Homo sapiens: one gene and its partner. The protein of the gene in region 1 purifies or fractionates together with the protein of each later gene. This does not show direct contact. Each region holds a gene or a part of one and is shown in the gene's direction. Other genes may lie near its edges.

Region 1 (4,631 bases):
ATGGGTGGCCTCCAGCCAGCCCATTGGTCCTGGGGTGGTGTGGGAGGGAAAGGGCCAGTTTGGGTCCGCAGCATCTTCAGGCTGTGTGTAGAGCAGCCCCCTCATGGTCCTGGGACCCAGAAATCATCTGCACCCCCAGCAGGCTCTGCACCCCCGGCAGGATCTGCACCCCCGGCAGGCTCCCCTAAGGGCCCCCAGAAGGATACCACTGCGGGTGGGCCCAGCCAGAGGAGCACCATGAGATCCGCTTGGTGGGGTGAGGCCGGCAGGGGAAGCACCCTGACCCCAGGACACTGGGCTCAATGCCCGCCCTGCCCCGTCCCACCCTGTGTATGGCGGGACAGAGTCCTTGGGCCTCAGGCACCCAGCTCCCCACCCCAGCCCCACCCACAATGCTCAGGGTCAGGCTGGCTGGACCGGGCGGGAGGTGGCATCTGGACTCCCCCTTCAGAAGGCAAAGCTGCCCTGAGATCTGCCTTCCCCTTCCCCCAGACTTCCTGCCATCACCACCACGGTAGAGATAAGGCCTCTAGGCTCAAAGGCCAGAGAGGGAGCCCACAGAGAGGGCAGGGCTGGGAGCCACAGCCTCCCTGCCCCCGGGGCTAGAGCTGGGGTCTTGCCCCAATCTTATCCTGACCCAAGCTCGGCCAGGTGGCTGCCAGGGCCCAGCTCCGTCTTCCTGTTTGTCTGTGTTGGAGCTTCCTGGGGCTGTCTCCGGCCTAAGGGAGCATGATGCAGCAGGCACCTTTTCAGTTTCTTTGACTCCATCGCAGTCCCCAACAGGGACCACAGCCCAGGACCCAGGAGGAGGGAGGTCCATGTCCCCACCCCCAACAGGGGCCACCGAGGGTGTCTGGGCAGCCTCTGTTGGGAGGGGCAGAGGCAGGGACCTGGGAGCTCTCAGGCTCTGGGGGCATCTGTGCACCTCTGCCCTGTGTCCCCCAGCTTGGAGGCAGCCCCCAGATGGACAGCCAGAAGGGGACACCCCAGCCCTGCCCCACAGCTTGGGGGGCAGCAGGCAGAGGACAGAAGCCCACCCAGGCTGGCCTGGCGTGGTGAGCCACGCCGGTAATCCCAGCACTTTGGGAGGCCAAGGCGGGCGAATCACCTGAGGTTGGGAGTTCAAGACCAGCCTGACCAACATGGAGAAACACTGTCTCTACTAAAAATACAAAAGTAACCGGGCGTGGTGGCGCTGCCTGTAATCCCAGCTACTCGGGAGGCTGAGGCAGGAGAAGCACTTGAACCCGGGAGGCGGAGGTTGCCGTGAGCCAAGATCACGCCATTGCACTCCAGCCTGGGCAGCAAGAGCAAAACTCCAACTCGAAAAAAAAAAGACCACCGAGGCTGCCTGTCCAGGGGAAGGGGCCCAGCCCTCGACCCCCACAGGCAGTGGCTCCAGGCTGTTGGGGAGGATCTGCCACTGGAATGGTTAACCCAGGCATCTCCAGCAGCCAATCACAGAGCTCTGCAGGAATACCTGGGAGAGGTCCTCATGCAGCCCGGGCGGGTCCTAGCCCAGCCCCAGTCTGGCCCTGGACAACCCCAGCAAAGCCGCCCTCAGCCAGCCCAGAAGCACTGGGCCTTGGCCACAGCAACACCCACTGAGCACGCTGGGAGCTGAGTATGGCGTCCCTGGTCTCGCTGGAGCTGGGGCTGCTTCTGGCTGTGCTGGTGGTGACGGCGACGGCGTCCCCGCCTGCTGGTCTGCTGAGCCTGCTCACCTCTGGCCAGGGCGCTCTGGATCAAGAGGCTCTGGGCGGCCTGTTAAATACGCTGGCGGACCGTGTGCACTGCGCCAACGGGCCGTGTGGAAAGGTAACAGCCCCACCCGACGGGTCCCCCAGCCCTGGCCTCTTCCCGCCAGCTCCGCCCTGCCAGCCGGCAGCAAAGGGCCCTGGGCAAACTCCAGGAGGCGGAGGAGGCTAGTGGCAGTACCTGGGCACCCTGACCCTCCCCACAGGCCAGAGCCCACCCTCCTGCTCATGAGGGCAGACAGGCCTTTCCAGGGACACAGTCCCTCTTCTCCCCAGGACCCCAGGGCCAACTCCCCCTGCCGGCCCTCTGCCATCAAATTGGCAGTGGCTCCAGGGGAGTCCCCTGGGGATGGGGGACCACTGTTGGGGACCCCTCTGCGTGCACCCCTGTAGTTGGGGAAGCAGGACAGGGGCCTGGGGAGACGGAAGGGCGCCAGGGGTTGAGAGAGGATGGTGGACGTTGTTGGACTTGAAAGGGAAACAGGCCCTCGGGGAAGCCCCTGGCCAGGCCTGCCTCTCCCCTCCCTGGTGGGCCCAGCGCCCCTGCTCACTTGTCTCTGCCCACAGTGCCTGTCTGTGGAGGACGCCCTGGGCCTGGGCGAGCCTGAGGGGTCAGGGCTGCCCCCGGGCCCGGTCCTGGAGGCCAGGTACGTCGCCCGCCTCAGTGCCGCCGCCGTCCTGTACCTCAGCAACCCCGAGGGCACCTGTGAGGACGCTCGGGCTGGCCTCTGGGCCTCTCATGCAGACCACCTCCTGGCCCTGCTCGAGAGCCCCAAGGCCCTGACCCCGGGCCTGAGCTGGCTGCTGCAGAGGATGCAGGCCCGGGCTGCCGGCCAGACCCCCAAGATGGTGAGGGAGAGTCCAGGCAGACCAGGGGAGTGGGTGAGGAGGGTCCCACGGCCCATGGGACCCGGCCTGGCTGCAAAGCCTTCGGGGAGCCTGGGGGCCTGGGGAGACGCCCAGGAGTCGGCCTGCGGCTGGGGATTCACAACGTGGGGCTCACTACTGGGCAGTTGGGAGCCTGTAGGAGCCCCGGGAGGGACCTCATGAGGGAGGAACCCAGAGGCCTGAGTGGGAGCCTGAAGCAGCTGGGCCCGGCAGGGAGGGCTGTGGCTCCAGGGAGGGGCGGGGCTGGTGGGGGCAGATCCTGTAGTTGGGGTGGGAGATGCATCCAGGGGCAGCGGGGTGGATGGCAGAAGGTCACACCAAAGGCTGAGGCGGAGGCCCCCTCTTCCCCAGGCCTGCGTAGATATCCCTCAGCTGCTGGAGGAGGCGGTGGGGGCGGGGGCTCCGGGCAGTGCTGGCGGCGTCCTGGCTGCCCTGCTGGACCATGTCAGGAGCGGGTCTTGCTTCCACGCCTTGCCGAGCCCTCAGTACTTCGTGGACTTTGTGTTCCAGCAGCACAGCAGCGAGGTCCCTATGACGCTGGCCGGTGAGGCCTGGGCTGGGCTGTGGAGGGGGGCACCCCCGAGTCCCCAGCCTCCACGTCCCTGGGGGGCAGGGCCGGAGCCCACACAGACTCGCGGTGCCAACTCTTCTCCCTGCCAGAGCTGTCAGCCTTGATGCAGCGCCTGGGGGTGGGCAGGGAGGCCCACAGTGACCACAGTCATCGGCACAGGGGAGCCAGCAGCCGGGACCCTGTGCCCCTCATCAGCTCCAGCAACAGCTCCAGTGTGTGGGACACGGTGAGCTGCGCCCTGGGGTAAGATGGGGCCTCACCGGGGTCTGCTTGGGCCCCTGAGCCTGTCCTGCCACCCCCCAGGTATGCCTGAGTGCCAGGGACGTGATGGCTGCATATGGACTGTCGGAACAGGCTGGGGTGACCCCGGAGGCCTGGGCCCAACTGAGCCCTGCCCTGCTCCAACAGCAGCTGAGTGGAGCCTGCACCTCCCAGTCCAGGCCCCCCGTCCAGGACCAGCTCAGCCAGTCAGAGAGTGAGTGCCCACGCCGACATTGTGCTGGCAGCACAGAGGTGGAGCCCGTGTAGGAAGGAAGGAGTGGCTGCCCAGGATGAGGGATGGAGAGAGTGAGCAGGGGCTGGAAGTAGAAACAACAGACACAGGGGAAGGTGGCGTCGCCAGGAGAGTGGGGCTTTGAGGCAGGAGGGTCAGCCTGAGTGAGGGCCTGGCCCACACTGACGGCCTGCAGCTCTGGTGAGCAGCGCCCGGGAAGCAGGGGCTGAGTCTGGAAGAAAAGCTCTCACAGCCGCCTCACCCGCCCCCAGGGTATCTGTACGGCTCCCTGGCCACGCTGCTCATCTGCCTCTGCGCGGTCTTTGGCCTCCTGCTGCTGACCTGCACTGGCTGCAGGGGGGTCACCCACTACATCCTGCAGACCTTCCTGAGCCTGGCAGTGGGTGCAGTCACTGGGGACGCTGTCCTGCATCTGACGCCCAAGGTCTGCCCCCACAAACCCGCGACCCTGGCCCTCCGTTCCCCACCATGGACTCCCAGGCCGTGCCCTCCCAGGGACCTTACCCACCCCACCTCCTGACCCCTCTCCCTGGGTCTTGGTGGGAGGCGCCCTGGGACCTCCCCCCCAGCCCAGCGCCCCTACTCCCCAGGTGCTGGGGCTGCATACACACAGCGAAGAGGGCCTCAGCCCACAGCCCACCTGGCGCCTCCTGGCTATGCTGGCCGGGCTCTACGCCTTCTTCCTGTTTGAGAACCTCTTCAATCTCCTGCTGCCCAGGGACCCGGAGGTCAGGCTTCTTGGGAAGGTACCCGGCGGGTGGGTGTGCTGGGGGCCTGGTGGACACTGAGCACCTACCCTCACAGGACCTGGAGGACGGGCCCTGCGGCCACAGCAGCCATAGCCACGGGGGCCACAGCCACGGTGTGTCCCTGCAGCTGGCACCCAGCGAGCTCCGGCAGC
Region 2 (3,720 bases), on another chromosome or scaffold:
AAATTCACCCTGTCTTTGGACAGTTCTGGCCGGCAGAAAGCTCTTCCTCATATTGGACCAGAAATCTCACTTTCTGCACACCTGTCCACTGACCTCACTTCTCCACCTGGGGCCATTCATGGCTAGTGTGATGCCTCTACAGTGTGGTAACTCTCCAAGGATTTGAAGGAGATGGTCCTACCCCCTAAGCTGCCTCCTCCTTGGTGCATCAGCCAAGGTCATGGTAGGACCTCTTACCCTTTCTGTCACTGAGTGATTTTCTGAGCAGTTTTGTTCCATCTCATTTAAAATGCAAGGTTTCCAATGTGGACTGTCCAGCATTCAAGATGTTCTGCTTCTGTTGATGGCAGTGGACACAAGAACCTCTTAGCTCACAGAGACCTCCCCCTTAACCCTACCTTGGGGTCATTTCAGGTGCTTCTCCCAAATTACCTCTCCTGGTTCCTACACAACACTCTAAAGTTCAGGGAACTCTAAAATGTTGGCCATGTGACCTATTTCTTGCAAACCATGTCACCTTTGCTTATGCATGTCTTTGTAACCAGCCATCTCAAATACATTGCAGACCATGCATTTTTCCCTGAGGTGAAAGGGAATTCTCATCACGTAGGAAAGAATTGCCCTGGAGTGCTGACTCCATTCTGGGACTGTTGCTGATTCATGGGTACAGTGTGCCACTTTTGAAAAAAATTCACTTAAAACAGACCAGAACGTGCCTCACACTGTAAGCCTCATTTTGCTTGCAGCATTTGCCTGTGTACACTGGAGAGGCCCGAGGCGCCCCTGCTCTGCGTTTTTGTTGCAGGTTCTTTAGCAAGGGTGTTGTCAGTGACTTCCCTGGGCAGCCAGGCTCTTCTCTGTAGATACCATGTTCCTCCTTCCCTCTTTGGGGAGGGCCTTTGCACAGGGACAATTCCTAAAATTGGAATCGTGTGTCTGCCAGGAGAAAGGCAGAATCACTTTCTTGCAAATTTCCGTCACTCCACTTCGCTAGTCATCCCCTCTGTGCTCCATTGAGGCCCAGGGTCTCTCCCTCCACATTTACCATCTAGCTTCAGGCTAACCGAGGACCTGGGCATGAAGAGGCTTTAGGGTATAGAATTATCAGACTTTATGGTGGTCTCTTATGATGAGGGCAGTGGTGGCAGAGTAAGAGTAACAGGTGCTCTGATGTGTGATGGGAGGGAGAAAAAGAGCAAATGGTTTTCCTTAAAGCCCCCACACAAGTATTCTCTCTTCATGAAATGCATGGAGTTTGTCCTCTGGCTTGCCGGGGACACTCGCCTGTGAGCCTACTCATTTCTGCCTTAGCTTTTGGGTGTGAGATTACAAGTCCTTCATCACTGACATGGTTAACACAGCTCACCCAGACGGGAATAGATAGTGTTAGGAGAGCTAATTTTGTAAACCCAAGCTTTTATAAAAGTGACATTGAAGTTATGTTAGATATGGAAATTGTCTGATACTCAGTGAGTGTGTGCCTTCATCAGAAACTCTTGACCTATCCAAAGCCCAGCCTTGTACACAGCAGCCTAGAGGCTGAAGGTATAGATGGTGCAGTTTAGCACTGCCAGGTGAGTAACTGTCATCTTGGAAGCGGAGTACCCTCTGGCACACGGAGCTCTGCTGAAGCAGCGCAGGGAGGTCAGACTCGGCCAGTAGACGTCTCTGCAGACACGCCTGTGGTCTGGGTGGTGGATTGCTGCTGTTGTCATGACGCTTATAACTGGAAACCGTTTCTTTCTTAGGGGAACCCAGAAGAACACACAATCCTAGAATTTGCTCAGTTAATTAAAAACCTTGTTGGTAAGTAGGATAAGTCATTTCCTGAGTAAAATCGACTGTGCCTGCCCTATCTGTTAATAACACCTTGACTAGAAAGTGGGTAATTAATACAAGCTAATTGAATTGGATCAAAGCAGAACTTTTTATCAGGAATACTTAAGTGTTTTCTAATTTTTAAGGAATAGAAAGATAAAGGAGGGCAGGATTGGTTTCTCCTCAGTTTTCGTTGCAGGTTTGCATGAAGTGGGAGGGAGGAGGAGATTTGCTCCCAGTGTTTGAGGCACGATTGTATTAGATCATCCTACATGGGTGACAACTATTGGATTTCCGAACTGGTCATGTCAAGCATAGAATTTCAGACAGCAAGAGACAGCAACCACCAGCTGCGTGCTTCAGGCAGGTTTGAAATTCTGTTTGCAATTCTGGTTATCCTGGCTGCCACCCACTGGGGGCAGTGTAGCATTGGGAGCACCCCATCAAGGTGGACTCTTAGGCCATGAGAAGGTCAGGTCTTCCAGACCAGCCCTGGATTGCAGACATAGAGTGGATGAGCCCTTGGCCTCATCTTCAGACTTCCTGGAGCTCTGAGGAGTCAGACTCTTGGAGGGTGTCTGTTGTCTGGGGTTGATCCTGAAATTTGAGTGAAGTCACAACCAGACTAGACTGGCAGGTAGGCCAAGGAGGAGTATGCCACAGTGTGTCCTGAGGTGACCATTCAGACCCCGCTTGGCTGGGTTAATTCCTCCAGTGTGCCCTTCCTGGCATCAGGCTGCCATTCATCGGCATTGGTCTAATCGACCCGGATGGCTGGAATCCTCCCGTTGCTCGTGGCAGTAGAAGCAGCGGTCTTCCTCAGACATAGCCTGCATCATCTGTGGCTCCCACAGCTGCTCCGATGCACTTCCCAGCTTTTCCATCCTGAATCTGTGTGTTCCTCCTGCGTGAGGAAGGGGCAGGCTCAGATCACAGCTCTGTGCCATCCACTCCTTCACACCCTCACTGCACAGAGTGAGGCCCGTGGGCCAACGCAGCAGCAGCATCATCAGATGTGTGTTAGAAATTCAGACTCTCATGCCCTAGCCCAGGCCCCCAGATCAGGATCTGCCTGTTGACAGGCTCTTCAGGTGATCCGTGCGTGCTGACGCTTGAGAAACACTATTTGAAACCTAAGGCTGGGGGGAGGGGCGTGCAGCTTCCCTGCTGTGCTTCTGTATATAGCTTTGTGACAGACCATCCTGAACCACCTGTGGTGGTGATTCGCTGCAGAGTCTGCAATGTGGCCTCCATGACACGGAGGCAGGGAAAGCCTCCACAGGCTTTCTTCTGCAGGTCTGGCCCACAGTCACTGGTGGGGCTGTGTACTGCTGGCCAGTGGGGCCTGGGCCCAGCAAGGATGTGGAACAGGCCAGCCTTTGCCGTCCTCCGAGAGGTCCCTCCAGCTGGGTGGCTGCACATCTTGGGTCTCAGGGCTGTCTAGGCTCCGAGCACCCAGGTATGGCCCACTTGGGGCATCCACCTCAGGGATGGCCCCACACCACGTTTGTGGTCTCACACCGGGGTCATGCTCGGTGGGCACGTCTGCACTTGTTACCTGGTGTGGGTGGTCTGCCTTGGAGCAACCCTCTTGTAGTGGGCGGTAACTCAGGCCTGTTGAGACAGAATAACCTGCCCCCCACCGAGCTCTTGCTGGGCGCCTGCACACAGTCAGCTTGGCCACAGCAGTTGCAGGAGCACTCCCTGGACTTCCACGCAGAACAGTCCCTCGGGAGCTCCGGGGCTTCTCAGAGAACTGCATTTCCACCGCCTGCACCCTATTCACACCACATATGGGGTTTGCCTTTGATGTGGATGGTAAGGCTGTGCTTACCCATGCTTTGTGATTCTCTCCTACCTTTTTTTTCTTTAAACATCTCAGGTAGCGGAAGTGAAATTCAG

What was found.
Region 2: the proteins of SLC39A4 (region 1) and UXS1 purify together in Homo sapiens (affinity purification with mass spectrometry; 4 studies listed by BioGRID and IntAct, with this or other methods). This does not show direct contact.

What each region holds. Positions count from the first base shown.
Region 1 is NC_000008.11:144,413,785-144,418,415, reverse strand, and holds the start of SLC39A4 (zinc transporter ZIP4 isoform 2 precursor), read left to right. Parts: upstream 1-1,571; 5' UTR 1,572-1,626; coding exon 1,627-1,818; exon of another isoform or gene 1,819-2,207; coding exon of another isoform or gene 2,208-2,324; coding exon 2,325-2,606; exon of another isoform or gene 2,607-2,996; coding exon 2,997-3,189; exon of another isoform or gene 3,190-3,305; coding exon 3,306-3,442; exon of another isoform or gene 3,443-3,519; coding exon 3,520-3,691; exon of another isoform or gene 3,692-3,794; intron 3,795-3,981; coding exon 3,982-4,154; intron 4,155-4,320; coding exon 4,321-4,458; exon of another isoform or gene 4,459-4,460; intron 4,461-4,534; coding exon 4,535-4,631. UniProt on the Homo sapiens protein: Selective transporter that mediates the uptake of Zn(2+). Plays an essential role for dietary zinc uptake from small intestine. The Zn(2+) uniporter activity is regulated by zinc availability.
Region 2 is NC_000002.12:106,096,802-106,100,521, reverse strand, and holds part of UXS1 (UDP-glucuronic acid decarboxylase 1), read left to right. Parts: intron 1-1,748; coding exon 1,749-1,806; intron 1,807-3,700; coding exon 3,701-3,720. UniProt on the Homo sapiens protein: Catalyzes the NAD-dependent decarboxylation of UDP-glucuronic acid to UDP-xylose. Necessary for the biosynthesis of the core tetrasaccharide in glycosaminoglycan biosynthesis.